Regions from separate parts of the Homo sapiens genome. Here all the other regions are linked to region 2. The links come from fine-mapping of genetic effects on gene expression. A gene starts in region 2. Each other region holds a variant in brackets. All regions are shown on one strand. Distances are between the middles of the regions.

Region 1 (10,523 bases), 23 kb before region 2:
TAATTTTTTGTATTTTTTGTAGAGATGGGGTTTCGCCATGTTGCCCAGGCTGGTCTTGAACTCCTTGCCTCAGGCCATCCGCCCACCTCAGCCTCCCAAAGTGCTGGCATTACAGGTGTGAGCCACTGCATCCGGCCAAATAAAGTATTCTTAATGACATCTGCAAAATCCATTTTGCTATGTAAGGTAACATATTCGTAGGTTCTGGGGATTAGGGTGTGGGAATCTTTAGAGGGCCATTATTCTGCTACCACAGAATATAAAGTTGTAAAATTCTACCCCATATTTGGAAACTGAGATTCTTAAATTATGTCTTTGTAATTCTCTTTTTTCTTTTTCTTTCTTTTTTTTTTTTTTTTTTGAGACGGAGTCTTGCTCCGTCGCCCAGGCTGAAGTGCAGTGGCGCAATCTCAGTTCACCGCAAGCTCCTCCTCCTGGGTTCACGCCATTCTCCTGCCTCAGCCTCCAGAGTACCTGAGACTACAGGCGTGTGCCACCACGCCGGGCTAATTTTTTTAAAGTATTTTTAGTAGAGATGGGGTTTCACCGTGTTAGCCAGGATGGTCTCGATCTGCTGACCTCGTGATCCGCCTGCCTCGGCCTCTCATGTCTTCGTAATTTTCCATGGAAAAAAACTTAAATCTTTGGAAGGAATAGAGTACATTATTGCATTTTACAAAGAAAAGGATAACTTTTATAGAATAATGACCTTGTATTCTTTTAGGATTTTACAGCTACTTTTTCACAACTATAGGCATAGAAAATGACATCAGGGGCCGGGCGCGGTGGCTCACGCCTGTAATCCCAACACTTTGGGAGGCCCAGGCGGCGGATCACGAGGTCGAGATTGAGACCATCCTGGCCAACATGATGAAACCGCGTCTCTGCTAAAAATACAAAAATTAGCTGGGCGTGGTGTCGGGCGCCTGTAGTCCCAGCTACTCGGGAGGCTGAGGCAGGAGAATTGCTTGAACCTGGGAGGCGGAGCTTGCAGTGAGCCCAGATCGTACCACTGCACTCCAGCCTGGGCGACAGAGCAAGACTGTCTCAGAAAAAAAAAAAAAAAAAAAAAAAAGAAATGACATCAGGTCATGGTGTTTGCTATTGATCGACACTTAAATAGCCTTTGAATTTTGTTTCAAAGGAGATGCCAGAATTGCAAATTTTCTCTGCTGATTTGTGTCCTACTGATTCTGGCTCGCTTTCCCCCTACACTACTAGGGCTACTCTCACTTTCACACCTAGCAAAACTTCACCTTTCAAAGAATTTAGGCAGAATAGTCCTAATTTAGTTAATAAGCTTTCATTTTAAATCTTAGGGAAGCAGTGTTAGTTTCAGTTATTCTATAGGAACAGAAATTGGAGCTGCCACAGCCTTTTGAACCAGAGCCCGGCAGACCCTCAGCTTCAGCCCTGCTCAGTGTTTTGTGTCTATGAAAGTCTTTTTAATTTTCTCATTACACATTTTATATATCATGCTATGTATTTAGAACAGAGGGGTTGTGTAAGATTATGACTCTATGTTCTTTATCTTGTCTTTGTATTAATTTGAAGTTGTGTTTTTTCTTTATTTGTAGCCAACTAATTAAAATACCAACATATTTATTTTTATTCATTTTTATGTGACAAACTTTTAAACTGAAGACTGCATCAATAAAATTGCATGCCATTAAATATGACTTTTATTGGATTGGTAAATTTTTAGAGATGCCTTTTTTTTTTTTTTAGACAGAGTCTTGCTTTGTTGCCCAAGCTAGAGAGTGCAGCGATGCGATCTCGCCTCACTGCAACCTCTGCCTCCTGGGCTCAAGTGATCCTCCCGCCTCATTCTCCCAAGTAGCTGGGACTACAGGCCCATGCCACCATACCTGGTTTATTTTTGTATTTTTTGTAGAGACAGGGTTTCACCATGTTGCCCAGGCTGGTCTCAACTTCTGGGCTCAAGTGGTCCGCCCATCTCAGCCTTCCAGAGCGTTGGGAATACAGGTGTGAGCTACTGCGTTGGCCTAGAGATGCTTTTTATGGGAAGTCACGATAATGGTTAAAACAGGCTTTAGAGTCAGATATGTGTGGGTTTGAAACAAGTGCTAGTTAATGGTTTGTGACCTTGTGAAAAAATAATAATATTTCTACTTAATAGAGTTATGTTGAAGGTATAATGAGATAGCATATACAAAGAGCTTAGCAAAATGCCTTCCCCACAGTAAGTGCTCTGTTAATAGTTTGTGTGGGCCAGGCGCGATGGCTCACGTCTGTAATCTCAGCATTTTGGGAGGTCAAGGCGGGTGGATCAACTGAGGTCAGGAGTTTGAGACCAGCCTGACCAATACGATGAAACCCCGTCTGTACTAAAAATACGAAAATTAGCCGGGCGTGGCATGTGCCGGTAGTTCCAGCTACTCAGGAGGCTGAAGCAGGAGAATCACTTGAACCTGGGAGGTGGAGGTTGCAGTGAGCCGAGAACGCGCCATTGTACTCCAGCTTGGGCAACAAGAGCGAAACTGTGTCTTAAAAAAAAAAAAATAGTTTGTGTGGTATTTTTTTTTAAGTGGAAAGCAGTCATGTCTATTCAACATCAAGTACTTTAATGTTCCATTTTTTCCCTAAAGTGATTTACCCACCTTACCACCACACTGGAGCATAGATATGTTAACTTTTGCTACAAAACAAGTCACCCCCAAATCTAATAGCTTAAAATGTTGACTTATTACTATTTCTCATGAGTATATGAGTTGGCTGCTTACTCTGTTGGTCTCATCTAGGTTCACTTACACAGCCACCTTCACCTGGAGGCTCAAATCATAGGTCTGGCAGCTGGTGCTAGCTGTCAGCTGGGGCATCTCTGTTCCCCTCCACATGGTCCCCCATCCTTCAGTAAGCTAGTCTGGCTTCTTTACATGGCAATCTTGGGGTAGTGTTCTTAGAAGGTGGCAGACAAAAGCTTGAAAGCCACTTAAAGCCTATGCAGTGGGACTTGTGCAACATTATTTCCACCACATTCAGTGGGTCAAAAAGCAAATCATAAAGCAAGACCAGATTCAAGAGAGTGGAGAAAGAGCTCCACCTTTGGATGGAAAAAGCAGCAAAATCACATTGCAAAGTTGCATGCACAATGGAATGAGAGGAAATCGTGGCCATCAAAGAATTGGTGGTCGGGCACGGTAGCTCATGCCTGTAATCCCAGCACTTTGAGAGGCTGAGGCAGGAGGATTGCTTGAGTCCAGGAGTTCAAGATCAGCCTGGACAATATTGTGAAACCCCTACTCTACAAAAAATTATCCAGGCATAGTGGAGTGCACCTGCATTTCTAGCTACTCAGGAAGCTGAGGTGGGAAGATCACCTGAGGCTGGAAGGTCAAGGCTGCAGTGAACCATGATTGTACCACTGCATTCCAGCCTGGGTGACAGAGTGAGACCCTATCTCTAAATAAATAAATAAATAAAAATAAAAGAAAATTCCAAATGGGGGCCCAGGCATGGTGGTTCATGCCTGTAATCCCAGCACTTTGGAAGGCCAAGGTGGGCGGATCACTTGAGCCCAGGTTACAGTGAGTTACGATCATGTCACTGCACTCTAGCCTGGGTGCCAGAGCAAGATTCTGTTTCTAAAAAATAAATAAATTCCAAATAACATAAAACACTAACATTAAAGAAACATTAAACATTTAATGTTAAAATAACATTAAAGAAAGGCATGACATTTTTATGTTTATCTAAGGGCACGGATTGAAAACTTGACAAACATGAATACAGGACCTAGAGATCAGAAGTCAGAAAGAAATAAGGAGATGAAATGGATCTGTTTTAGAGAGCTGCTCTCTTTCTACTTCAACCAACTCAGAGATATCCATCTATTTACTTGTATAAAGTGTTAAGGGAAGAAACAGATTTAGGGCTCAGAATTATAGAAAAGCCCTTCCTTTATTAGGGTGTATAAAAACTTTGATTTCTTTTTGAATTTTCCTGAGTTCAGTGGCACACTGGTAATCTCTAGTACACATGATCTGTGGCTGTTAGAACAAAATTCCCCAATACGTTAACACTGCAGCCTCCAAAATGGCTCCCAATGATCCCAACCTTCTGGTATCCACTCCTTTCTACAGTCCTCTCCCACACCAAATCAGGGTTGGTTTCTGTAACCAACAGAATTTGGCATAAGTGATGGCATATGGCTTCCAAGGCTGATTTATAAAAGACATTGAGGTGTTTCCCTGTTTCTTCAATCGCCTGCTCTAAAGGGAAGCCATAGCACAGACAAGCAGACCTATGGAGAGGGCCATGTGGTGAGAAACTGAAAACTCTTGCCCAAAGCCAGCAAGCCACAAAGACCTCTTGCCCATGGCCACGTGGGTGAATCATTTTGGAATCAGATTATCCAGCCCCAGTCAAGCCTTCCCTCAGATGCCTGAAGCCCCTGCTGACATCTTGTCTACAAACTCATGAGACCCTGAGCTAGAAACACCCAGCAAAGCTGCCCCCAAATTTCTGAAACACAAACTGTGAGACAATAAGCTTTGGGGTAATTTGTTATGCAGTAATAGATAACTAATACACATTATACTACAGGAAAAAGCTCAAGACACAGAAGGCCAGATATGGTGTGATTCCATTTATATGAAACATCCGTAACAGGCAAATCCAAAGAGATAGAAAGTAGATTGCTGGTTACCAGGGGCTGGAAGGACAGAGGAATGGGGAGCAAATGCTAATGGGTATGAGGTTTCTTCTTGGGGTGAAAATGAATTGGATAGTGGTAATGGGTACATAATCTCGTGACTATACTAAAAACCACTGAATTGTACACGTTAAAGAATTTTATGGCATATGGACTGTGAATTATATCTAAATTACGTGTGTGTGTGTATGTGTGTATGTATTTGGAACAGAGCAGCGGATGGAAGTTGGAAGGACTTTAAGGAAAGTGTTAATGAAAACCTGAAGAGCCTTGAAGAAATTGTTGAGAAGTATGGCCTTTGAAGAGGCTGCAGGTGTAGTCTTAAGGAAAGTAAGAGAAATCTTATTGGCAATTAGAGGAAGGGATTCTTGTTTAGTACTGACAGAAAATTTAGCAACACTGTCGCCAGGAGTAACTCAGAAAACAGAAAATGTGCCTAATGAATTGGGTGACTAGCTGATGGGATTTCCATATGCAGTGTTTTTTTTTTTTTGTTGTTGTTTTTTGTTTTTTTGTTTTGAGGCTGGGTAATTTATAAAAAGAGGTTTATTTGGCTCACGGTTCTGCAGGCTGGACAGGAAGCATGGTGCTGGCATGTGCTTCTGGTGAGGGCCTCAGGAAGCTTACAACCATGGCGGAAAGAGAAGGGGGAGCCCGGATGTCACAGGGCAAGAGAAGGAGCAGAGAGCCATACACAGTGTTGAATGTGCTTCCTTAATTCTTGTTGCTTATACTAACATGCAAGAGAAAGATAAGCTAATGGAAGAACTATTGGTAAAGAATTAATAA[T/C]TGATGGTTTAAAAAATTCCCAGACTCTTCAGATTGCAAATGATGCCAAAATTAAGAAATGGCTTCAAGGCAAAGATAATAATTGAGGGCACTTCCAGGAAAACATAGTCTAAAGATGATATTGAGGGCATGACTATACAATCCTTTCTCAAGACTTCAAAATGAATCAACATGGTGCTTCAGAGAACTATTTAAACAATAGAGTTCATTAGATTATTAGCGTAATTAGTTCTTCCCATTATCTTGGCAGAGACAAGCCCCAAGTTAGAGAGGGGATATTCTGAAGGGACTTTGGGGTGGCTTTTGTCTACTGGCATAAACCCCAATAAAATTCACAGGATACTCTTAACATTTTAAAATATTATATTGTCAGTTAATAGGGTTGCTAAAAAAAATTCAAAAATTAGAGAAATAAAATATTATATTGGCAGAACCACTGTTAACTTAGATGGAAAGGAAAGAGAGTATAAAAAGGCCTTTGGGTCTCCAAACTTCTACAAGTGGAAAGCACACTGAGAAAACCACTCAGCTAGAAAGATACGCTACCTTTCATGAAAAAAAGGTATGGGGAAGCGGCCAGGCTTAGTGGCTCACGCCTGTAATCCCAGCACTTTGGGAGGCCGAGGGGGGCGGATCACCTGAGGTCAGGAGTTCGAGACCAGCCTGGCCAACATGGTGAAACGCTGTCTCTACTAAAAATACAAAAATTAGTCGGGAGTGGTGGCACGCACCTGTAATCCCAGCTACTCGAGAGGCTGAGGTGGGAGAATTGCTTGAACCCAGGAGGCTAAGGCTGCAGTGAGCCGAGATTGTGCCACTGTACTCCAGCCTGGGTGACAGAGGGAAACCCTGTCTCAAAAAAAAAAAAAAAAAAGTAAAAAAGAACAATTAAAAAAAGTATAACTCAGGGGCTGGGTGCGGTGGCTCATGCCTATAATCCCAGCACTTTGGGAGGCTGAGGTGGGTGGATCACTTGAGCCCAGTAGTTGAAGACCAGCCTGGGAAATATGGTGAACAGCTGTCTCTTAAAAAAAAGAAAAAGTATAACTCGTAAGGTAGAACTAAGAGCCCAGAGAACATAGCCAAGAACTAAGAATTATTCTGAAGCCTTGAATACTAATCAGAGTTGCCAACCTCTGTCTGACTGAATTTCAGAATTGCCAGTCTCCTGTATGTCTTCCACTTCCCTACTTTTTGAAGAGGACGGTATCTAGCAATTATCCTATATCTGCTGTGCTACGGTATGTTACACATATGGGGAGCAAATAACTACAGTTCACAGGTCTTAAGAGAAACTACTTGAGTTGCTGTACCTAAGGAACTCATCCCAAGGAGCCCTCATTCACACTTGCACCTGACCTGATTTAGATGATAAGATACTGGGCTTTGAGCTGATGCTATATTAAGGTGAAACTTCTGGAGGATTTGAAAGGAGGTAAGAGTATTTTGCATTGGGAAGGACATAAATCATTGGGGACCAGAGGTCAGACTGTGGTACCCAACTTCCAAGTTGACACCCAGTGATTCCTGCCTCCTAATATTCACAATGTATATAATCTCTTCAACATTTATTAGGCCCCATGTAACCCATGGAATTTGGCAAATGTGATGGTATGTGACTTGAGGCTAGTTTATAAAAGAGTGACTTCTGCCTGGCACTCTCTGTCTCATCACTTACTCTGCGGGAAGCCAACTACCATAAGATACTCAAGCAGCCCTACAGAGAGGTCCATGTGGTGACAAACTGAGTCCCCTTGCCACCCACCAGCCAGAGAACTGACTCTTGCCAGCAGTCATGCAAGTAAGCCATGTGGAAGCATTTCCTCCAGCCCTGGAGAATTCTTCAGATGATCATAACACCTTGTCTGCAACCTCATTAGAGACCGCGCCAGACCCACGTGACTATATTGCTCCTGATTTCCCGATTCCTTCTCTGAACGTTTCTTTTAAGCTGTAGTGGATAACTAATATACCATTTCTCATGCTTTTGTTTCTGCTCTCATATTAAAAGGATATTTGGGCTGGGCACAGTGTCTCACGCCTGTAATCCCCAGCACTTTGGCAGGCTGAGGCGGATGGATCACCTGAGATCAAGAGTTCGAGACCAGCCTGGCCAACATGGCGAAATGCTGTCTCTATTAAAAATTCAAAAAGTGGCTGGGCATGGTGGTGGGTGCCTGTAATCCCAGCTACTTGGGAGGCTGAGGCAGGAGAATCGCTTGAACTCAGGAAGCAGAGGTTGTGGTGAGCCAAGATCACACCACTGCACTCCAGGCTGGGTAACACAGCAAGAGTCCATTTCAAAAAAAAAAAAAAAAAAAAAAGAAAAGAAAAAAAACCTCGGATATTTGGAGGCTCCTGTTGAATGAGATTTTCTCTGTATTACACATGCAGAAAGTACATATTTTATCAGAATATTTTATTTCAAGAGTTAACACTTTTTTCAAAAAGTAAAAACAATATAATTACTTCCCTGAGTATAAAGAACCAATTCTACAATAAAAGACCATTACAAAATTAAGCAATTAGAGGTACATAATTCTCTGCATTCAGTTATACTCTATTTCAAATTTATTCTTAAAAATGTCATGTTTTGGAACTTTAATGTTTCAAAAAAACCTCAGAACAACTCATTTTGCACCTATGGTGTTAAGGTTATCAGTCTGATCTGTCTTTATCAAATTCAAGGGCAATCTTCAAAGCGGTGCTATTGAGGCCAACAGATTGCATGTTACATATGATAGAAACAATGATTCCTCTTGGGGGAACCTTGTTATTTATAGTCTCTGTATCCAGTTCTTCAGGAAGGACCAGCAGGACACTACTGGCACCCACTGCCCCTCCAGTATGTGAAGCATAATGCCGTTGCTTTCTACACGAACCATACGTTTGTTTCCTTTCCACAACACCCCACGCCATTGCATATTTACCCTCTTTATCCCAAGACATCTCTGTGTTAGGGACTGGGGTCCACATCATAACCATTGTTTCTGGTTTGAGGTATCCAGGTAAAAGATTTTCATTTGAGTTCTTAAACAGCCCAACTTGGTAACCATAAAGCATTGCATTCCCAAATTTCAGAAGGTCACCCACTGTAGACAGAAATCCACCACCAGCCCATTTATAGGAGTTATCCACGTAAGGTGTGTTGACAAGACGTTTCTTTTTATTGTAAACATAAAATCTAAAAGGAAATAAGAAATGATCATGAAAAATTTCATAGTCACTGGCTTCACACATGATGATAGAAAAATGTATACATGAGAGAGATTGTATTTCAATGTAATGATCATACATTCTCAGAAACTATAAACTAACCACTAATTTTCAGTATGATTCAGGTCCTAATGACACACAGATAACTAAGTAAGATAGTCTAATTACCTTTTGAATTAAAGCATAGAAAGTGGTTTTTTTCTATTGGTATGGCTTGTCCATGCTGAGTGTATCAAACCTTTAATACCTGCAAAAATGTATTGGTTAATATTACACATGACATATTTGCCCTGTGCATATGGAGAAAGTTATCATTTGGTAGATATTCCTTGTCCTTGGGGTTAATGTTGCATCGTGCCACAAATGAATTTTATAACCAAAACTGTAAACATCCAAAGCACTTTGGGATGTTTAGGAATAAGGTTATTTGTAAGATGACTAGATTTCTTGGATAAAAATACCATATAAGCTGGGTGCAGCAGCTGGTGCCTGTAATCCCAGCAACTCAGGAGGCTAAGGCAGGAGGATCACTTGAGCCCAGGAGTTTGAGTCCAGCCTGGGCAGCAAAGCAAGACCCTATCTAAAAAAAAATTCTAAACAAAATACCATATACATATCATATATAATGATGTGACATGGTAGTTTCTTGGTGCAGTGGGAAAGGCTGGAGTTAGCAAACCCTAGTTTGAATCCTTTCTTCTTTTTTCAAGATTCTTATACGTCCCCTAAAAGTACAAGTCATAATATTGAGTGAAGTAGGGTTGGCAGTTAGGAAATGAGTGGCCACAGGTATGTGTCTGAAGATTTTAAAAAAGAGGTGGTTTTCTCATTGTCTCAAAATCAACATGTCTGTCATGTTTCTCTCCATTAAAACCTTCATTATACAACTTTTAATGACTTTCTTGCCCTAAACTCTCACATCCAGTAAGATGCTAAATCCTATTTATTCAATCTCTGCTTTGTGTCTTACCCTTCTCCCTTCCTTCTATTCCTATGACAACTCTCAAATTTTAGGCCCTCATTACTTTGTGTCAACTCCTGATTATATTTGTAATTCCAGCCAACCAAATAAAATTAAATCTAAAAGTTACATAATAGAAACACATTTTTTCATTGAGAAATAAATTTCTACTTTTCTTTTGAGACAGAGTCTTGCACTATTGCCTAGGCTGGACTGCAGCGGTACAATCATGGCTAACTGTAGCCTCAACCTCCAGGGCTCAAGCAATCTTCCTGCCTCAGCCTCTTGAGCAGCTGGGACCACAGGTGTGTACCACCATACCTGGCTAAGATTTTTTTTTTTTTTTTTTTTTGGTAGAGATGAAGGTCTCACTGTTGTCCAGCCTGGTCTCGAACTCCTGGCCTCAAGCAATCCACTCGCCTCTGCCTCCCAAAGTGCTGGGATTACAGGCATGAGCCACTGTGCCCAGCCAATAATCAGCTTTCTGTAACTTCTTTTTTTTGAGACAGAGTCTTGCTCTGTTGACCAGGCTGCAGTTTGGTTCTCCTGCCTCAGCCTCCCCAGTAGCTGGGATTACACGTGCTGCCACCATGCCCAGCTAATTTTTTTCTGTATATTTACTTATTTATTTTTGAGACAGACTTTCACTCTTATCGCCTAGGCTGGAGTGCAATGGCGCGATCTTGGCTCACTGCAACCTCCACTTCCCGGGTTCAAGTGATTCTCCTGCCTCAGCCTCCCGAGTAGCTGGGATTACAGTTGTGCGCCACCACATCTGGCTAACTTTTATATTTTTAGTAGAGGTGGGGTTTTGCCATGTTGGCCAGGCTGGTCTCAAACTCCTGACCTCAGGTGATCCGCCCACCTTGGCCTCTCAAAGTG
Region 2 (10,523 bases):
CGCATAACTGTCTCTGGTTTACATGGTACACGGTTCTCAACATCAGCATAACCTAAACCTTTGGGGGAAAAAAGCAAAAAGTCACTATTAACAGGCTTCATGGTCAAACAAGTTTTCAAACCCTGAAATAATACTATCTTTAAACATGCTGTGTTTATCTAAAAGAAAAGATACTCCACTTTTATAAGTTACTTAACACTGGACATGTAAAGGATTAAAATCTTAGTATATCGGTAAGCCTAACAATTTAACCTTATAACTAAAGTGAAATTGTACCCTGTTTGCAATAGCAATTTTCTATGACTTAGATACAAATTTTTCTTAGCTTATCTAAACAACTGAGTTATTCCACATTTTAAATAAAGTATTCTTTAAAGAAAACATCATTATTCTTCTTCAGATTATATTTATTTTTGACTTTTGAGTAAATTTCCACTGAATTCCTTGAAATAGCCACTCAATAAAAGTAAGTGTGGGCCGGGCATGGTGACTCATGCCTATAATCTGAGCACTTTGGGTGGCCAAGGTGAGCAGATCACCTGAGATTGGGAGTTCAAGACTAGCCTGGCCAACATGGTAAAACCCCGTCTCTACTAAAAATACAAAAATTGGCCAGTCATGGTGGCGTGTGCCTGTAATCCCAGCTACTCGGGAGGCTGAGGCAGGAGAATCGCTTGAACCTTGGAGGCAGAGGTTGCGGTGAGCTGAGAAAACGCCACTGCACTCCAGCCAGGGCGACAAAGTGAAACTGTCTCAAAAATGTGTGAAAAGATGTCCTGCAAACCAAATCTAGCTAACCATCAATTTAATTCGACTGCAAACCAGGAGGAAAATTATGTACTAACTTAAAGCTTTTTCTAGAAAAAATTTTAAATTTGGTTTCCATGTTCTCACAGGCTGAAAGTGCGTAAATCTAACTAAGAAAGAGAAAGTGCCTGCAATCCCAGCACTTTGGGAGGCGGAGACGGGTGGATTACTTGAGCTCAGGATTTCGAGACTAGCCTGAGCAACATGGCAGAAACCGCATCTCTACAAAATATACAAAAAAAAAAAAGAAAGAAAGAAAGAAAAAAGCCTGGCGTGGTGGAGTGCACCTGTAGTCTCAGCTAGTCAGGAGGCTGAGGTGGGAGAATCATCTGAGCCCAGGAGTTTGAGATTGCAGTGAGCCAAGATCACACCACTGCACGCCAGCCTGGGAGACACAGTAAGAGACCCTGTCCAAAAAATAAATAAATAAATAAATAAAAAGAGAACAGAGATCTGAAAAGAAAAGGAATACAATGACTATAAATTTGTATAATCTTAAATATCTAAAAAATATTTGCATAAAGTCCATAAAGCTGACATTTATATAATTTTTGATTACAAGACTTATCATAAATTAGGTATAATGATTAGATTATACTTATACTTGAAGGAAGAATCATTTTCCTTTTTTAAAAAATTTTAAGCTGGGCACGGTGGCTCACGCCTGTAATCCCAGCACTTTGGGATGCCGAGGCAGGCGCATCACCTGAGGTCGGGAGTTCGAGACCAGCCTGACCAACATGGAGAATCCCCGTCTCTACTTAAAATACAAAAATTAGCCAGGCGTGGTGGTGCATGCCTGTAATCCCAGCTAATCGGGAGGACGAGGCAGGAGAATCACTTGAACCTGGGAGGTGGAGGTTGTGGTGAGCTGAGATCGCACTATTGCACTCCAGCCTGGGCAACAAGAGTGAAACTCCAAAAAAAAAATAAATAAATAAAATTTTTTTTATAGAGACACAGGTGTCGCTATGGTGCCTAAGCTGGTCTCAAACTTCTGGTCTTCAGCCATCCTTCCTCCCTGGACTCCCTAAGCGCTGGGATTACAGGCGTGCGCCACCTCAACTGGCCCATTTTTCTTCAAATTCAAACCCCTACTGCGCCCATCAACTTACTGCCTTTAAATGGCATATGAAACATTTTTTTTTCTTTTTTTTTGAGACAGAGTCTCGCTGTTGCCCAGGCTGGAGTGCAGTGAACGATCTTGGCTCACTGCAAACCTCCGCCTCCCGAGTTCAAGCGATTCTCGTATCCTGGCCTCCCGAGTAGCTGAGATTACAGGCACGCACTAGCATGGCTGGCTAATTTTTTGTGTTTTTAGTAGAGATGGGGTTTTGCCACGTTGTCCAGGCTGGTCTCGAACTCCTAAGCTCAGGCAACCCACCTGCCTCTGCCTCTCAAAGTGCTAGGATTACAGGCGTGAGCCACTGCACCTGGCCTGAAACATCATTTTCTAAAAGTGGGACTCCTAGAAACCTAGGATGACCAATTAGATCAATTTCTGTGCAACAGAGAAGTTATGAAAAATAATGCCTTGATAAAAGTATCATAAAATGAATAGAAATCCCTCTCCCTAAGTTTTTTGCCTTCTGTTTGAAAAAAATAGATGACACCTCTACCTGGTTAAAAAGCCTAATAAAGTAGACTGAAAAGTCATTAAAGACAAGGAATAGTGTGTGGGCGGCAAGCCACCCAGGCGCTGAGGCAAGAGACCGAGGACACGAGCTGTTCCAGTATAATAAAATATAAAACAAGAATAGTTATACCAGATATAGATCTTAGATATGATTATATATATCATTAATCTTATTAGTTTGTAGCAATTAGTCTTTATTCCAATATTATAATAATCCTTGCTCTATAATCATAGCCAAGGAAAAACCAGGCCATACAGAGATAGGAGCTGAGGGGACACAGTGAGGAGTGACCAGAAGACAAGACTGCGAGCGTTCTGTTACGCCCAGACAGGGCCACCAGAAGGACTCCTTGGTCTAGCGGTAACGCCAGCATCTAGGAAGACGCCCGTTGCCAGCCGGACCGTGGTCTAGCGGTAGCGAAGAGCGTCAAGAAAAAACACCCGCTACTTAGTAGAACCAGAAAGGGAGTCTCCTTTTCTCCGGGGGAGTTTAGAGAAGACTCTGCTCCTCCACCTCTTGTGGAGGGCCTGACATCAGTCAGGCTTGCCCGCAGTTATCCGGAGGCCTAACCGTCTCCCTGTGATGCTGTGCTTCAGTGGTCACGCTCCTAGTCCGCCTTCATGTTCCATCCTGTACACCTGGCTCTGCCTTCTAGATAGCAGTAGTCAATTAGTGAAAGTACTAAAAGTCTCTGATATGCAGAAATAATGGCATAAGCTGTCTTTCCCTCTGTCTCCTCTCCCTCTCTGCCTCGGCTGCCAGGCAGGGAAGGGCCCCCTGTCCAGTGGACACGTGACCCACGTGACCTTACCTATCATTGGAGATGACCCACACTCTTTACCCTGCCCCTTTTGCTTTGTATCCAATAAATAACAGCGCAGCCAGACATTCGGGGCCACTACCGGTCTCCGCGCATTGGTGGTAGCGGTCCCCCGGGCCCAGCTGTCTTTTCTTTTATCTCTTTGTCTTGTGTCTTTATTTCTACACTCTCTCGTCGCCGCACACAGGGAGAGACCCACCGACCCTGTGGGGCTGGTCCCTACAATAGTGTATAACCCCAGTACTTAGCACTTTGCTTTTTACGGAAGAGAGGCCTCAAGAAATTGTTAACTTAATTAAAAAAGAAAACTTCACAAATTCTGAGTTTTATCTACCCATAAGTGTTACCTGCAAGTACTCAGTTAATGGATTGTTCTACACAGTAGTTACCCCTTATCTGTGGTTTCGCTTTCCTCAGTTTCAGTTATCCATGGTCCGAAAGTATTAAATGGAAAATTCCAGAAATAAACAATTCGTAAGCTTTAAATTGCATGCCACTCAGAGTATTGTTGTGATTGTTCTATTTTATTATTGTTGCTAATCTCTTACTATGCCTGATTTATAAACTTTATCATAGATATGTATATATAAGATAAAATATAGTATATACAGGGTTCAATATCATCCACTTTTTCAGGCATCCACTGAGGGTCTTGGAATATATCCCCAGGATAAGGAGGGACTACTGTATAAAACTTTCAGACTAATAAATCCAGTCCTAAGAGAAAAGTGGGAGTGGGTAGCCATCCTCATGACTCCAATTTATTAGTCACATTTTAAACCTTACCGTGATTTAAAAACACCTGACTCTTTATTATGTTAGATGTTTTCTCTACAATATGCATCGTTTTATGTAAATGCAATAGCATTTCATGGGATCCACTCTAACCAGTAAAACAATATTTTATTTACCAACTGGCACAGAACAAAACAACAATTTTCTGAACCCACCTTCTGACCAGACTTCTTTTCCATCTACAGAAACTCCAACCACTATGCCCGGTGCGCCCACCTCATCCTAAGACCGAAGGGGAAAGAACCGACAGTTACGGGCCTGCTGAAAAAGCCCAGCGCTCTCCTCGGGGACCTTCCAAGGCCCCGCCCCCTGAGCCTGGGCCCCGCCCCCTCCACCTGGGCCCCGCCCACCTCGTCCCAGGCCATGGTCACTCACTAACAGCAAGGGATGTGCCTGTCCGCCCCCTAGGGGGAAGGGGCGGTCCCCGAGACAGGCGGTGACCTCCACCCAGATTTGGGGAACCCCCAAGAGCGTCTGACCACGGCTCGGCGGTGGGGAAATGGGAAGTCTTTCTCGGAAGCCGATCGCGGGCACCCCGCCGCCCCGGGTGGGGTCCACTCAGCCCCCGACAGCACCGCCGACAGGGGTGGATCCCCGGCCCCCTACGCCCCCCGCTCCAGTGGCCGCACCTTGATCCTGTGCAGCAGGTCGCGGCTGCTCTCGATGGCTCTGGCGAAGCACCTGGAGCAGGGCGGCGCCGGGGTCTGCGGAGACCACGGGGCGAGGGACTGCTCCTGTGGCGGCTCGGCCAGAGGCGACGCCTCAGGGTCGGGGGCCGCGGGGGACTGCGCCGGGGCCGCGCCCCTCAGCCCACCTGCCAGCTTCACCCCGAGCGCCAGCCCCAGCCCCAGCCCGAGGCCCCCGACCCAGCCGTGGCCGAGAGGCGGCAGCCCGGCGCGCTGATGGACCCCGCGTCGTCCGCAGCTTGAGGCCAAGCCCCCGGGGGCGGCAGCCCGGGCAGTCACTGCTGACATGAGCCGGTACATGGCGTCTCTGCACAGCCGGCCGCCACCAAACTCACGCACACCCTGCCAGCCGCGGCGCGGGGCGGAGGGAAGGGCAGGGGGCGGGACGGGGGTGGGGACCGCGGTCAGACCCTAGCAGTCGACGCCTGACTACCCGAGCGCCGATCGCATCGAGCCCTTCTTCCTCTCCCTTTTCTTGTCTCTTCCTTGTTTTTCCTTTCTGTCTCTCTTTCCTTTTTTTCCTTTGCTTACCCTCAGATCAAGCGTCACCTCCCAGAAGCCTTCCTAGTTCCCGTCCCATGGGAGTTCTCGCCCTTACCATCTTGCCCCTCAGTGTGCACACTTCTTTAACAACAGTTAACACTTTGTATCATTTAACTACTTGTCAGATTCCTTACCAGAGTGGGACTTCTTTGGGGAGCCTAGACTTAGTTTTGGATCCTCAACTTCTGGAACAGCGCAGGGCACACAGTAGACGCTCAGCAGGCATCTCCTTTCCCTTTAGAGATGCCTTTCTCCTTTCCTTTCCCTTTCTCCTTTCCCCCTTTAGAACGCGCTTCTTTTCACTCTCTTGCCATCTCCCTTATGTCTCATTTCAATTCACCCATTTCCCTAAAGATGTTTTAAAATCTATTGCTTCTGGAATTCTAGCTCCACACCGTACCAAAGACATGAAGTTACATCCAGACCTTATATTACCTTTCTTTTGCTATAAAAGATAAAGTGTTTTTTAAAAATTTCGTGCTTGAAAAATTTTAATCCAAAAGTAACTATTATAATTTACAATTACCTATGATTTCTCAGCATCTGTAAATGATCAGACATTCTTGTGAAATAAGAAACCTAATCTCAAATTGCTACAAAATGTAAAATGTGTATAAAATCCTAGTTTAACGTGTAATGAAATTGATATGTTAATTTGAAGTTACTTAAACATTTATCAGTTTTGTAATTTTTATATTTTGGGATACATACATACACACACACACACACACACACACACACACAATCTTTGAAAGCTTGTAGGCTTTATACCTTCAGCACTGGGGCAATATGCCCCATATACAAAATGGCCCTGTCTTTTCTTGCAGGTGGAATAAAGAAGAGAGCTCACAGACTTGAACTGACAAGCCATCAGGACAAACATATTGAGGTAATAAACTTACTGAGTAAACATATACATACCTCAAAATAAATATATTGAGGTAATAATTATTTAATAGGAGGAAAAGGCAATAATGGTATCCATACCTAGCAAGAAAATAGTGGGGCTAAATAAGTAAAGCTTCTGGGGCTACTCACAAAACCCAAGACTCCAAGAGACCAGAATATCCTAGGACCCAGAGCGTTTGACACTGAAACTGCAGTTATAGTGGACAGATGTACTCTATTAAGATAGTACTGGAGGTTCCCACGGTGGGGGTCACCACTACTCCAAGAACATGAGAGAAAAAATATAAAGAGAAAAATGTAAAAGACGCAGTCAGTGGTGGTTATGAGTGCCCACTTTTATTTAAACTGTACATAATTTTTCTTTAAACTGTACATATGTTACTGAAACACCAAGGGTTTAGCCTAGATCCCATTGCTCGCCACACAGAAAGCCAGTCACCAAGACAATGAGTATCGCCGGGGGAAAACAAAGCTTTTTCAGGTGCTGCAGCCAGGGAAACGGGAGTTCAGTCTCAAGTCCATTTCCTCAGCTAACTAAAATTAGGGGTTTATATAGCAAGGAAGAAATGTAACTATGTGTGGGGAAACAGGAAATAGGGAGGGATAAGGAAGAAGAATTGTTCAACAGGAAGCAGGTGGTTGGTTAGGCCGGGGGTCCCAACCCCTGGGCCATGGACTAGTTAGGAACTGGGCCACACAGCAGGAGGTGAGTGGCAGGTGAGGGAGCATTATTGCCTGAGCTCCACCTCCTGTCAGATCAGTCATGACCTTAGATGCTCATAGGAGCTCGAACCCTATTGTGAACTGCGCATGTGAGGGATCTAGGTTGCTTGCTCCTTATGATAATCTAACTAATGCCTGATGATCTGAGGTGGAACAGTTTCATCCTGAAACCATACCCATCAGCCCCAACCCCACACCCCATGGAAAAACTTTCTTCCATGAAACCTGTCCCTGGTGCCAAAAAAGCTGGGAACCGCTGGGTTAGGCAATCATGACAGGTGAAGGATCTGGTGTCTCATTGTCCAAATGTGGTGATCTGGTAAGTTTCAGTTTCTTGATACTATCTGGGAGACCTGATGGTTGGTTTCCTCCAAAAGGAACTCAGATAAGACAAATGTAAGTTTCTCAAGTTTTAAGACTGGGCAGGTCAATTTTCTCTCTTTATTCAAAATAAACCATAAACATATTCTATTGGACAATTGGGCTGGTTTCACATATGTGTTTTTTGCACTCTTCTGTACCTCTCCTTGGATAAAAAATAAAAAAAGAAACAGAGCCCTGTGTTTGCCATGTACAGGGCAAAAGCCAATGTCCTGGTGGACTTCCAGTCTAGAAGCAGGTACAGAGAGGCCATTTGAAGTATGGCTTCTGGGAAGTGTTAACCTAAAAGGAAGAGGCTGAGGCACAAAATATAATTTAAAGACTTTACTTTAGCCAAAGTGAGGACAGCTGCCCTGAAGACTCAGACCCAAGGAAACTTGGAATGAGCTCCCCATTAAGGGGAGCTCCCCTGTCCTCCTTTGCCTTTAAAGGCAAAAAAAGGGGGACAGGGAATGGGCTGATACAAAGTTGTTTGTCAGGGATCCCCATTGGTTTACAGAAATAACAATGATTGGCTATATACATTGTTAAGCAACAGGGTATGGGTTCTAGCGTCTGGTGCCCCATTATTAGGTTAATTTATAACTACTCGTGGCAACAGCAAGCAGTTTCAAGAGATGAATACATAGCTTATTGTGGGGGTAGGACATGAATGCCATCTCTTTTTTTTTTTTTTTTTTTTTAAGATAAGGTCTCACTCTGTTGCCCTGGCTGGAGTGCAGTGGCGTGATCATGGCTCATTGCAGCCCCAACCTCCCAGGCTCAGGTGATCCTCCCACCTTAGCCTCTTGAGTAGCTAGGACCACAGGCATGCACCACCACACCTGGCTAATTTTTGTATTTTTTTTAGAGATGGGCTTTCGCCATGTTGCCCAGGTTGATCTCAAACACCTGGGCTTAAGCGATCCTCCCACCTCGACCTCCCAAAGTGCTGGGATTACAGGTGTGAGCCACAATACTCAGCCACCATCTCATTTTAATGTCTCCCTGGGCCTGATAATTTGAAAGGACTTGCATTCTTCACATAAAAGTTATTTTCTTTTCTCAGAAGGTAACAGAAAATAAATTGTTCTCCAGCAAGCTGAGTGCCCAGGAGGCAACCTGACCAAGCAGCCTGCAGACTTGTTGGCAGGATCTTTACTACAACTCTAGGGCAGGAGCCCAGAGCCCCAGCATTTGAGCTGGCTTTGGGGTGGGAGCCGCAGAGACCAGATAGAAGAAAGGTAAACAGGCCAGGCGCGGTGGCTCACTCCTGTAATCCCAGCACTTTTGGAGGCTGAGGCAGGTGGATCACGAGGTTAAGAGATCAAGACCAGCCTGGCCAACATGGTGAAACCCCGTCTCTACTAAAAATACAAAAATTAGCTGGGCATGGTGGCACATACTTGTAGTCCCAGCTACTCGGGAGGCCGAGGCAGGAGAATCACTGGAACCCGGGAGGCGGAGGTTGCAGTGAGCTGAAATCACGCCACTGCACTGCAGCCTAGATGACAGAGCGAGACTTTGTCTCAAAAAAAAAAATAAATAAAAAAGGTAAATGACTACACATGGAGAAGAATGGGAAGAGAGAAAAAAAGTGAGGAAAAGGGGAAGGAAAGAAACTTTCCACTAAAAATAAATCTGCAAACCAAGTTTCCAAAACATATTTTTAAAAGTTTTCTAAAAAACACTGACAATAAAATCAACCACCAAATTGTGAAATCACCCCAAACAAAATAAAATCAGTAGAAGGATATACAGGAAAAGAGGAAAAAGAGAGGCCTTTCCCTGGCTAAGAAAAAGATGGGTGATAGAAAATAAAACAAATATATATATTTTAAAACAAATATATATTTTTAAATATATATTTTTATATATTGAAATATATAAAACAAGTATATATAAAATATTTTTTATATATTTGTGTATTTATATATTTTATATATTTGTTGAAAATATATATAAAAGATAAATAAATGTATAATATCTACACAACAAAAAAGGAATTACAAAACAAAATAGGAATAAATGAAGCAAAACCATATAAATATGAAAATGCACTTATCAGAAATTGGGGAAATAAAAGATCATGAGAGAACTTTAATATCATCTCTTCTGAAGCTGGAGCTACAGTTTTGATGGACTGCTGTAACTGCGTCCAAAGCTTGTACTGCTCACCACACAACAGCCAATCAGTCAAGAGACAGGCGTTGGAGCAGGGAAGATGACTTTATTCTGTGGAGCCAGCAAACCAAGATGGCAGACTACTGTCCTAAAGAAGCATCTTAAGTAAATGTGAATGTTGGGCTCCTTTTATGTTAGGGGAGGGGGAAAACGGGAAGAGGCTTAGGTCAAAAGGTGACCAGTGACCACAGACATCTGGGTGGCAGCAAGGGTAAGCTTCTTTGTCTTTGTCAGGTCACAGTGCTCTTACAAATTTTTAACATAACATTGTTACTTATGTGTATACCCATCTTATCTCCTTGGGGGTTAGTTTTGGGGAGGGACTAATCATCCTTGCTTTAAAGTTAAACTATAGGCTGGGCACGGTGGCTCACACCCAGCAATCTAGGAGGCCAAGGTGGGAGGATTGCTTGAGCCCAGGAGTTTGAGACCAGCCCTGGCAACATAGTGAGACCCGTTCTCTACAGAAAATTTTAAAAAATTAGCCGGGCATGGTGGCCTGTGACTACCAGCTACTTGGGAGGCTGAGGTGGAAGGACTGCTGACCCTGGGAGGTCGAGGCTGCAGTGAGCTGTGATCATGCCTCTGAACTCCAGCCTGGGTGACAGAGCGAGACCCTGTCTCAGGAAAACAAAACAAAATACTGAGTGGGACTCAGACAGAAACCACTGGTACACCAATAGAAACTTCTGTCCAACAACTCAGAATAGACATAGTCCCAGCCCTCCTGGAACTTGCAGTCTATACGGTAATAGAGTCATGATAAACAGAACGGCAAGATTAAATGTAAAATCCTAGTTGTAATGAGTGCTGTGAAGGAGAGGTGCATACTGTGTTGAGAGGTTATAATGTGAGATGTTATCTGATCTGGGAGATGAAGGAAGACTTTCCTAATGAAATGAAATTACATCCAAGACTTTAAGGATAAACAGGAATTACCTTGGTTAAGTATGGGCAGAAAGAGAAGGGAAGTGTTCCATGCAAGGAATTAGCAAATGCTAAGGCCTTGTGGTGGGAAGAGGCGGTTTCATTCAAGGAATTAAAAGATAGTCATGGGCC
Region 3 (10,523 bases), 57 kb before region 2:
AACTTTAAAATGGACTCTTATCCAATAGCAAAGTCAAGATGTGCTGAAACTCACAATCAGCATCAGAACAGGTATTGGGATTCTTATGGTAGTAAATAACAGAATACTAAATGACCTAAATAAAAATACTGATTTAAACCATAAATATATTTAACCCTAAACTAGAATTATCAGATATAAGCCTAGTGACAGGTGAGACTTAATCTAGTAGCTCAAATTACATGCCCAGTTCTTGGCTTCTCTTTGTCAGCATCTTAGCAACACGTCTTCAAGATAGCACTTATTTCAATAGGCTAGCCCCATGTGGTTGCAAAATGTCTTCCTGAAACTCCTAGGGCTCCTTGCTTCCAGATTCAAACAGAGCAGAATGTAGAGAATCCTTTTCCCCAAAAGTTCAAATAAATACCCAGGAATTGAGTTCCATGGGCCTTGACTGCCCTTCCCTGAACCTATGCAGGGCCCAAGAGAGTGGCCTCTGTCAACTGATGTAAGCCACTGGGACTGGGTGTAGAGTCAGCCTCACCCTAAACACAGGGTTCTATTAGTGAAGACTGGAGAAGATAAGGCTGGGAAACAAATGAGCACCATCTGTGTTTACGTGTCAAATGCACATGGATATTTGTTTGCTTGTTTTTGAGACTGAGTCTCATTGTATTGTCCAGGCTGGAGTGTAATGGCACGATCTCGGCTCACTGCAACCTCTGCCTCCCGGGTTCAAGCAATTCTCATGCCTCAGCCTCCTGAGTAGCTAGGATTTCAGGCACATGCCACCACACCTGGCTAATTTTTGTGTGTTTAGTAGAGACAGAGTTTCACCGTATTCATCAGGCTGGTCTCGAACTCCTGACCTCTGGTGATCCGCCCACCTCGGCCACCCAAAGTGCTGGGATTACAGGTGTGAGCCACGATGCTTGGCCATCACATGGATATTTGTGTCAAGTACTACCAAGTGATTGATTACATTGGAGAAATCACAGAACTGAATCCAGAAAAAGTGTGATTTGTCATTCTCTAAACAGATGGGTTGATGCTTAACTGGGAAGAAGGAAATATGGCCTCCTTGAGGAGGGAATGGGTAACCCAAAGCCAGAATTAACCAAAGCACTTTGACACCTGGCCCCTTTTCTGCGCTACTTCAGGAATCAGCTGACGGTATAAAGCCCATTTTGGCAGCAAAGACTTTAAAATGGGCTTTATACCCTTAAATGGTTCCTGAAGCAAACTTTCTAATTATTCTATCAGGCTCTGACAAATCTGTCCTGGGACTTTGTTATTGTCAAAAGGACTGAACTTAGCATCAGATGACCTGAGTTCTGTTTCCCCTCTGCTACTAAATAGTTCTGTGACCTTAAACAAGCACAGCATTTCTGTGCCTCAGTTTCCTTAACTGTAAAATGGGAGGAACTGAATGAAATCATCCATTCCCATCTGTAAAATCCTTTGAGCTCTTGAATCCAGGCCCCGATAACAGATGTCCTGAGACCTGGAAGTTCTGATCTTTCACACAATAGTCTCCCAAGCCACCCAAACACCCTGGTGAATCAGGGGATTTATCAGCAACCTCAGAGGTCTTGTGAGTCCCATTGAGGCTATGTAGGGTGTGGAGCCGGGAAAGGAGCCCAAGATACTTAGTTCCTTGTTCTAAACAACATTCAATTCACCCTTATGACTCAGTTATCATTGCTTCTCTCTTTCCAAGGAGCACCAAGTTTCAGTCCTGAGATAGCAACAATGATTTGTTGGGTTGCCAAATTACTGGGTTAAGAGAAAAATGAAATTCTGCATTATTCTGAGCCAACTCCAATCAGATTTCTTCCTGCAATTCCTACTTAATATGAATAATCATAATCATTTCCCGAATAACCTTAAACATAGACATGTATATATATTTAGAGGCAGGGTCTCACAATGTTCCATAGGCTGGAGTGCATGGCTATTCACAGGCACGATCATAGCTCACTGTAACTTCAAACTCCGGAGCTCAAGTGATCCTCCTGCCTCGGCCTCCTGAGTAGCTAGGACTACAGGTGCACACTACTGCACCTGGCTCTGACTTTTTTTTTTTTCCTGGTTTAACAGCAGCAAGGGATTATAAACAGAGTTAATCAGGGAACATGTTGAATTGCTCCAGAACCTGTGATAAAACACCCTCTCCCTTTGTGAAATTCCTTGCTCTCACTGGTTCAGACAGAACTGAAGAGTTAATATGAAATCAAGCAGGATTCTTTGATTATTCACTTTTAAAATTACAAGCATAAATGATGATGATAACCTAATAGAATGCTGAATAAATAAGGCTGAATAGGTGATTCTTTTGGGCCAGGTTGAATATTCAGATTAAGAGAAACTGCGAATGAAATCCCAATCACATAGTAATTTCCCACCTATTGCTTTCTGAAACTCAAGTAGCTATATGGTCTAATTAGGCTGTTTGGGGGATTATCACATTTTATTTCTGCAATGAATGGCATCATTTGGGGTTTAATATTTATTGAGGCTTTTATGAAACAGAGAGGTTTCCATATGTCTCTAGAGCAAAACATTTGTGTTTGCCATCTGCTACTCAAGAGTAGTTTTGTAGAAAAAGAACGCAAATTGCTTGCTTCTTTAATTACTTTGGGGCTAGGCTATACTATAGTTGGGACTGTGGAAAAGCCAGTGGAATTAACTGCTGAGAGAATACCATTGTTTACTTAGCCACCAACTTAAATAATTTTTTGCAAGTAAACTGCATAAAAAGAGATTAAAGCCTAAAATTATTTTTGTTCTTTTAACTCAAGGCAAAGACCAAGTGAAGAGATGTGTGAGATTTTTTTCGAGCTGGCAAAAAGGAGACCCTATCCAGGAGACTAGGCTTTAAGGTCAGTATAGAAAGTATCAGATCTCTTTTTCAAGATCTGACGCCAACTGAATCTGTGACTTATACTTAGTACTTAAAAAAAAAAAAAAAAAATCAGAGGATCTCCTTGAGCCCAGTATCAAAAAAATTAATTTACTTTTCATCACCAGGAGCTAATTACTTGGGCTCTGGACTCCATACTGTTTGTTTCTGCTTTCCCTCTTCTCAGTGGCTTCTTGAATTGTGTATAAGTCTCTATTCAGTAACACCTCCACTAGCCTGTAGACAGTCATCATTAGAAAATATAGTATTTCTAATCACTTTTGCTTAATCAGGAGTCACTTCAACCAACAGGGCTCACCCAAAAGTGGAAACTCTGGGGCTTAGGAATTGTCTGTGGATTTCAATTGCTGATGCTTTTTCTAGCTTTCCTCACAGTAAAATTGTATCCATCAAGGTTATGAGAATACAAATGTAAGAAATTGACAGATGAAAGGGACCTAGTCTGCCCAGTGACTAACTGAGATCCTTGACAGGCTACCTAACCTCAATGGACCTCTGACTTCTAAGACTACTTCTTGCTTTAAGAGGCCATAAAAACCTGCCGGGCGCTGTAGCTCACGCCTGTAATCCCAGTACTTTGGGAGGCCAAGGCAGGCGGATCACGAGGTCAGGAGATTGAGACCATCCAGGCCAACATGGTGAAACTCCGTCTCTACTAAAAATACAAAAATTAGCTGGGCGTGATGGTGCGTGCCTGTAATCCCGGCTACTCGGGAGGCTGAGGCAGGAGAATCGCTTGAACCAGGGAGTTGGAAGTTGCAGTGAGCTGATATCACGCCACAGCACTCCAGCCTGGCAACAGAGCGAGACTCCGTCTCAAAAAAAGAGGCCATAAAAACCAATGTCTAGGCCGGGTGCGGTGGCTCACACCTGTAATCCCAGCACTTCGGGAGGCTGAGGTGGGCAGATCACGAGGTCAGGAGTTCGACACCAGCCTGGCCAACGGGGAGAAACCCCGTCTCTACTAAAAATACAAAAATTAGCCGGGCGTGGTGGCGGGTGCCTGTAATCCCAGCTAGTCAGGAGGCTGAGGCAGCAGAATTGCTTGAACCCAGAGGCAGAGGTTGCAGTGAGCCGAGATTGCGCCACTGCACTCCAGCCTGGTGACAGGGCGAAACTCCATCTCGAGAAAAAACAAAACAAAAATCCAATGACTATAGAGATGTATTCCAGGGTTTCTCAAAATGTGTACCTCAGAACGCTAAGTGAGTCAGCAGATGCTAGCAGGTGATACAAGAAGAAAAGATTTCAGGGCTAAGCTTTTTGAGAAATGCTGCTATCAGTTGTTTAGATGGTGCGGCTTCTCTGACGTCAGTATGCAGAGGCGCAGCTGTGAGTCTCCACCGCAAGGTGTGGCACACGGCTTTTCCCACACTCCATTCTGATGGCGCATCTTATGGGGCTTGTGTCCTCAGACTGTATGTTAGGAAACTCATTTAATCCAAACCCTTTTTTTTGCTTGTTTGTTCGTTTTTTGTTTTTGTTTTTTTGAGACAGAGTCTCACTCTATCGCCCAGGCTGGAGTGCAGTGGCGCCATCTCGGCTCACTGCAGCCTCTGCCTCCTGGGTTCCGGCGATTCTCCTGCCTGAGCCTCCCGAGTAGCTGGGACTACAGGCGCCCGCCACCACACCTGGCTAATTTTTTGTATTTTTAGTAGAGATGGGTTTCACCATATTGGCCAGGCTGGTCTTGAACTCCTGACTTCAGGTGATCCACCCGCCTTGGCCTCCCAAAGTGCTGGTATTACAGGCGTGAGAGCCACCGCACTCGGCCCTTATTTTTATTTTTATTTTTTTTAAATTTATTTATTTTGAGACAGGGTCTCTCTCTGTCACCCAGCTTGGAGTGCAGTGGCATGATCTTGGCTCACTGCAACCTCTACCTCCCAGGCTCAAGGTATCCTCTCACCTCGGCTCAAGGTATCCTCTCACCTGGGCTCAAGGTATC[C/A]TCTCACGTCGGCTCAAGGTATCCTCTCACCTCGGCTCAAGGTATCCTTCCACCTCAGCTGGGACCACAGGCCCGCACCACCACGCCCAGCTAATTTTTATATTTTTTTGGTAGAGATGGGGTTTCACCATGTTGCCTCGGCTGGTCTCAGACTCCTTGCCTGAAGTGATCTACCTGCCTCGGGCTCACAAAGTGCTGAGATTAGAGGCTAAGCCACCCCTCGAAACCTAACCCCTTAGTTTTAGATATGAAAACACTAAATAGCAAAGTCCTACTATCAAGTTGAAAATCAGCATGTTTACAGGAAGCTGTGAGGAAAGACGGCAGCATCCATTCCCAGAATTCCTGACAGACTGGACTGAGAACACCCGTCCCTGCTCCCAGGCTTCTCCTGAGTCCCAGGGCAGGGCTCCCTGCTGCCGCCTCTGTCACTGTCAGATCCACAGAAAGATCAGAGAAGAGGGTGGGGCGCTGTGATGGCTCTCTCTCCTCCACACCTGGGGAAGCTGCTTCACCCTCAAGCTCTGGGGGACTGGCAGATGTTGTACTAACCTGAAATTAAAATCATCTGTGCAGAAGCATATTTACCCAGAATTCTGAATGAACATTCTGTATATTGTGTTTTTGAGAAAAAGACTAATGTCAAGTAATTAAACTAACTGGCATTTTTTGCTTTGTATTGTTCTGTATTTTGAATGAATTATAGGCTAGGTTAGAGGGTCATATCACACCCAGGCTAATTTCCCACATTGACATTTAAAGTGCTGTAAAAATGATCTGCACAATGAAGTGTTTTTACAGAGAAATTATTTGAATTTCTTGAGGGCATGAATTATATTTACATTGTATCCCTAATGACTGACTAACACAGGCTTGGCATATATTAGCCACATAGTGACAAATATGTTTGCATTAATTAGTAAATTACAATCTAATGAGCAGGTTTTAATAAAATTAAATAATGGTAATAATTCACTCACAGCACTAATGGAATCCTACCTTTTCAGATTAATTGACTTATCATGGTCAAGGACCATGAATTCTGGTTAAGGCTTATTAACAGAGGCTATTTGACAGTTTTCACTTGTAATCTCTTGGTTTCATAAACATGTTTCATTCAGGTGATAATAAATGAGATCATTTCTATATTTGACTCTTCAATACATACACACAGAATTGGAATGAGCTGGTAGTTATCAAGTCCTATCTTCCAGGCACTGCAGAATTCCCCTTTCAACCACTTGGTCTGTGTTTAAACATCCCCATAGATAACACACATAATAACAACCTTGAAGAAATGTGTGATCCTGGAGGGCCTTCTGAGTCATCACAGGATTAAGTCATGTTAGTAAATGATAGTTTGTGTTCTATAGTTTCATTCAACAAAAGCTCTTTTAGCACCTACAATATATAAAGCAACTTACTAGATACCATAAGAGGAATAAAGATGAACTGACACAGACCACTCCGTAAGAAGCACATGGCCTTCATGGGAGGTGGGACCCACACTTAAATAGTTAAAATACTAGGTAGAATTATGATATACTGGTAATGTACTGTGGTGCTAGTTTATAGTTCTTTTTTTTTTTTTTTGACAGAGTCTCACTCTGTCGCCCAGGCTGGAGTGCAGTGGTGCAATCTCCGCTCACTCCAACTTCTGCCTCCCAGGTTCAAGCAATTCTCCTGCCTCAACCTCCCAAGTAGCTGGGATTACAGGAGCGCGCCACCACGCCTGGCTAATTTTTTTATTATTTTGTGGAAATGGGGTTTCACCATGTTGACCAGGCTGGTCTTGAACTCCTGACCTCAAGTGATCCACCCGTCTCGGCCTCCCAAAGTGCTGGGATTACAGGCATAAACCACTGCGCGCAGCCTTATAGTTATTTCAAAACTAGTTTATATTTATTTAGACACTGGTAGTCTATAATTAAGTGGATTACCCAGTGTATTAGAACACCTAATTCCCTAACTATTGTTGATACATGGAAGGTTACCACACTCAGTATCAATGACATTGGGTTTTACTAGCAATCAACAGCATCACCTAAGAGCAATGCTCTTGGGTGAACCATCCCAGCAAGGTCTTGCTGACCAGCGTTGAGTCACCTACTTTAGACCCACAATTCACCTTAAATGGATGAGCAAGGAGGATGAATCAAGATGACATGGGAACCTGAACTGCATTGAGCGAGGTTTCAGGGATGCCTTCGGGAAGCTGGATGCTTGTACAGGCTGCAATATAGACCAAGTTGCCAAGTGACAACCAAAAATGGGATTAGTCAGGGAATAAAAATTGTCCCTAGCTTTCCAGAATGGCTCTATCTGAACAGATAGTGGATCTGTTGGGGAGAAGGTGAAGGGGGTAGGAAAAGAACCTGCCTGTTTACACCCCAGAAGTGACCACCACCTACTAGTCTGAACCAACTTTTAAATTCTGATTTGGGCTCTGTTTCTACCTCCATATGAAAAGCGAAAAAATTTAAAGGAAGCCGGGTGTGGTGGCTCATGCCTGTAATCCCAGCACTTTGGGAGGCCAAGGCTCTTGGATCACCTGAGGTCAGGAGTTCGTGACTAGCCTGGCCAACCTGTCTCTATTAAAAATACAAAAATTAGCTGGGCATGGGCGCCTGTAATCCCAGCTACTTGGGAGGCTAAGGCAGGAGAATCACTTGAACCCCCTGGGAGGCGGAGGTTGCGGTGAGCCAAGATCGTGCCATTGCACTCCAGCCTGGGCGACAGAGCGAGACTCCGTCTCAAAAACAGAATAAAACAAAACAAAAACTTTAAGGAAATTAAATTATATAACCAACCTCCAAAGATCATTAAGGAATGTATCCTTCATATATTATGAACAGTATTGTTGGAGAAAGTTGAACTAACCCTCGCCTGAGCCGAGAATCCAGAATTCAATGCTGTTAACGTTTGAACACACAACAACGAATTTGCATCCAAATAAACATTGTACACATTTCCTTACATCTTTTGCCTTGAGAATTTGGTGATGAAAATACTTTTTACATGTGGACATATTTCCCTTAATATTAAATGTTGTAAATTATTATGCAAAACTGAGATATGGGGGAACAATAAGGAAGCTCATAATTTTAGCTTCTTTGCATCTCAAAGCCAGGACTGTGATCATGACCCTGATTCTGAAGGAAATGATGTGGACAGAAGCTGTTTTGTCTGACAGCTCCTCACAACCTTGACTGACCCAAGCAACCCCCACAAAAAGCAATGCCCAGCAGTCCAGGGAATCAAGCTTCTCTTCCACCCCCTTGGTCCATTCTGGGGAGGCAGCAGCAGTGGCACTGACCTTAGGATCATCCTCTAGAGTTTTGATGTCTGGTTTTGTATGGGAGTGCAACCTTAGCAGTAAAATATTTACTTATGGAGCTCATTCATTTGTTCTCTGGCCCTTATACCTACTGGAGATAATGCCTACTGCCCAGAATAAGTAAGTTATTTATTGGAGGTAGCAGATAAAATATTGAAACAGCTCATGCCTTTGTGTTGTATAGTTGAGGTAGAAATAATGGTACCCAGATTTGTGCAGACTCTATTAACTCACATCTTTGGCTTATTTATTATTTGGCCAGATATGATTTGCTCTTAGGTCTTGGCAAGAGGGGCCTCTTCCCCTGGGGCCCACTGTGTAGAGAGCCCTATGCTACCCTTGTTCTCTTCTGGTCAGTCCTCTCCACTGGGCAAGGAGTTTACAGGCTAAGTGGATTTACTCACCCAGAGCCATGCCATCTTTTTAGGCTACATTCCAGGTACCCAGAACTCAGGATTCCCTGCCAATGGCCCTGCTTCCAGGATTGGTATGGGCCTCTTCTCCTGATCGATCTTTCTTTCTTTCTTTTTCTTCTTTTTTTATTTTTTGGAGACGGAGTCTCGCTCTGTCACCCAGGCTGGAGTACAGTGGTGTGATCTCAGCTCACTGCAACCTCCACCTCCGGGGTTCAAGCAATTCTCCTGCCTCAACCTCCCAAGTAGCTTGGATTACAGGCACACATGGCCACGCCCGGCTAATTTTTTGTATTTTAATAGAGACAGGGTTTCACCGTGTTGCCCAGGCTGGTCTTGAACTCCTGAGCTGAGGCAATCCACTCATCTCGGCCTCCCGAAGTGCTAGGATTACAGGCATGAGCCACCGTGCTCGGCCTTTTTTATTTATTTTTTATTTGAAACTGAATCTTGCTCTGTTGCTCAGGCTGGAGTGCAGTGGCGCAATCTCAGCTCACTGCAAGCTCCACCTCCAGGGTTCAAGTGATTCTCCTGCCTCAGCCTCTCGAGTAGTTGGGATTATAGGCACCTACTACCATGCCCAGCTAATTTTTGTATTTTTAGTAAAGACGGGTTTTCACCATGTTGGCCAGGCTGGTCTCAAACTCCTGACCTCAAGTGAGCCTCCCAAAGTACTGGGACTACAGGTGTGAGCCACTGCACCCAGCCCTGATCTATCCTTCTGAGGGTGGACTGTACAATTGGGCCATAGCCCCAAGTGGCCACCAAAAGGGGGTGATGATATGGCCAGCGCTTGGACATATGGGCTGGAATCCACATCGTGTGTGTGTGAGGCCCTTCATGATGTGGGCCCAATTTGAGGGGTGAAGGAAGGGCACTGTTCTGGGCCAGGGCTGCTCTCCTGGGCCACCACGTTTTGGTATGGACCTCTAAGGAGCTGAAATATTCTAAATTCAAACCAATTATCTGCATCATTGTAAAGGTATATCTGTCAAGGTAGGAAACCCAAGTTTGTTAGCTTTGGCTAGAATTTTTAAATATTTAGACATATGATATGTTGGTTTTCATTTTCATTCTTGCTCCATGCCCCACAAAATGGGGCCTGTCCTTGGAATGTGTTTGATTTTGAGTGTGTTTAAAATTCTAATATAAAGGCTCTGGTAAGTGGTTGGAGTGTGGGTAATGGGTGGGCCACTTTGCCACCAGGTCAAACAGAGCATTGCTGCCAACCAGCGCTCCAACTACGTTCCAACATCCTTCTGCTCCCTGACCCAACAAGGGAAACTGTGTGTGTGTGTGTGTGTGTATGTGTGTGTGCGTGTGCGCATGTGTGTGTGTGTGCTTGCGCGCGCATGTGTGTAATATCCACTGAGAATCAGGAAAACATGACCTGGCTGTGCTCACATCATCCAAACCTCACACTGATGTTCTGTTCTAGATCGCCACGGCTGCTCTGCCAAGCTTCTCTTCCCACTTGGCTTCCTTTAGCTGCTCAGAGTTAGGAGCTAGGCATTTTGAAGTCCTCCTCCAGGAGAAGAAGAATGAACTAGAAAGGGAATCATGCCAGGCTTCCTTGATTGAACCCCACTTCACTTCAGCAAATCCTTAAGCCTTTCTGTCTGTTTTGTCAGCTGTAAAATAAGCAGACTAATTCAGCTCTACCTCAGAGGGCAATGAGTGGCAGGTTTAATTAATGCTGATTGTGATGGGCTTTGTAATGTAAAGTTGTATATAAATGAAAAAGAGCTTTAGAGCCATTTTATCCAAAGTCAGCTAAGTTTGGAGTGCATCCTGCTTTCCACTGCTATGGTTAAGCCTCTGAGTCCTGATCACAGACTGCTGCAGACAACAGAGGAGCAGGAAGGCACAGTTGGCTCACATTGCCTGAACAGAAAGCAGGGCTTAGCAATGGCAGTGGGGGGG

What was found.
Region 1: its variant is fine-mapped to the expression of LACTB in whole blood (INTERVAL, PIP above 0.99).
Region 3: its variant is fine-mapped to the expression of LACTB in left ventricle (GTEx, PIP above 0.99).

Annotation. Positions count from the first base shown.
Region 1 is chr15:63,139,405-63,149,927 of GRCh38, reverse strand. LACTB (lactamase beta) reads right to left here. Exons shown (of 6, transcript NM_032857.5): 6 at 7,867-8,648. The coding sequence ends at 8,123. It overlaps RPS27L (ribosomal protein S27 like), which reads left to right. Exons shown (of 4, transcript NM_015920.4): 4 at 1-1,679. Among named protein-coding and RNA genes, the nearest start is that of RPS27L, 13 kb to the left of the region's middle. The variant T/C (reference allele first, on the strand shown) is at 5,465.
Region 2 is chr15:63,116,394-63,126,916 of GRCh38, reverse strand. LACTB (lactamase beta) reads right to left here and starts at 5,056. Exons shown (of 6, transcript NM_032857.5): 1 at 4,689-5,056; 2 at 4,215-4,281; 3 at 1-58. The coding sequence starts at 5,045. It overlaps LOC107984798 (a long non-coding RNA gene), which reads left to right and starts at 5,150. Exons shown (of 2, transcript XR_001751584.1): 1 at 5,150-6,177. RefSeq lists silencers at 4,298-4,487, 4,498-4,567, 4,588-5,167.
Region 3 is chr15:63,172,947-63,183,469 of GRCh38, reverse strand. LOC101928972 (a long non-coding RNA gene) reads left to right here. Exons shown (of 4, transcript XR_932355.4): 3 at 2,781-2,861; 4 at 5,155-5,403. Among named protein-coding and RNA genes, the nearest start is that of RAB8B, 11 kb to the left of the region's middle. The variant C/A (reference allele first, on the strand shown) is at 4,851.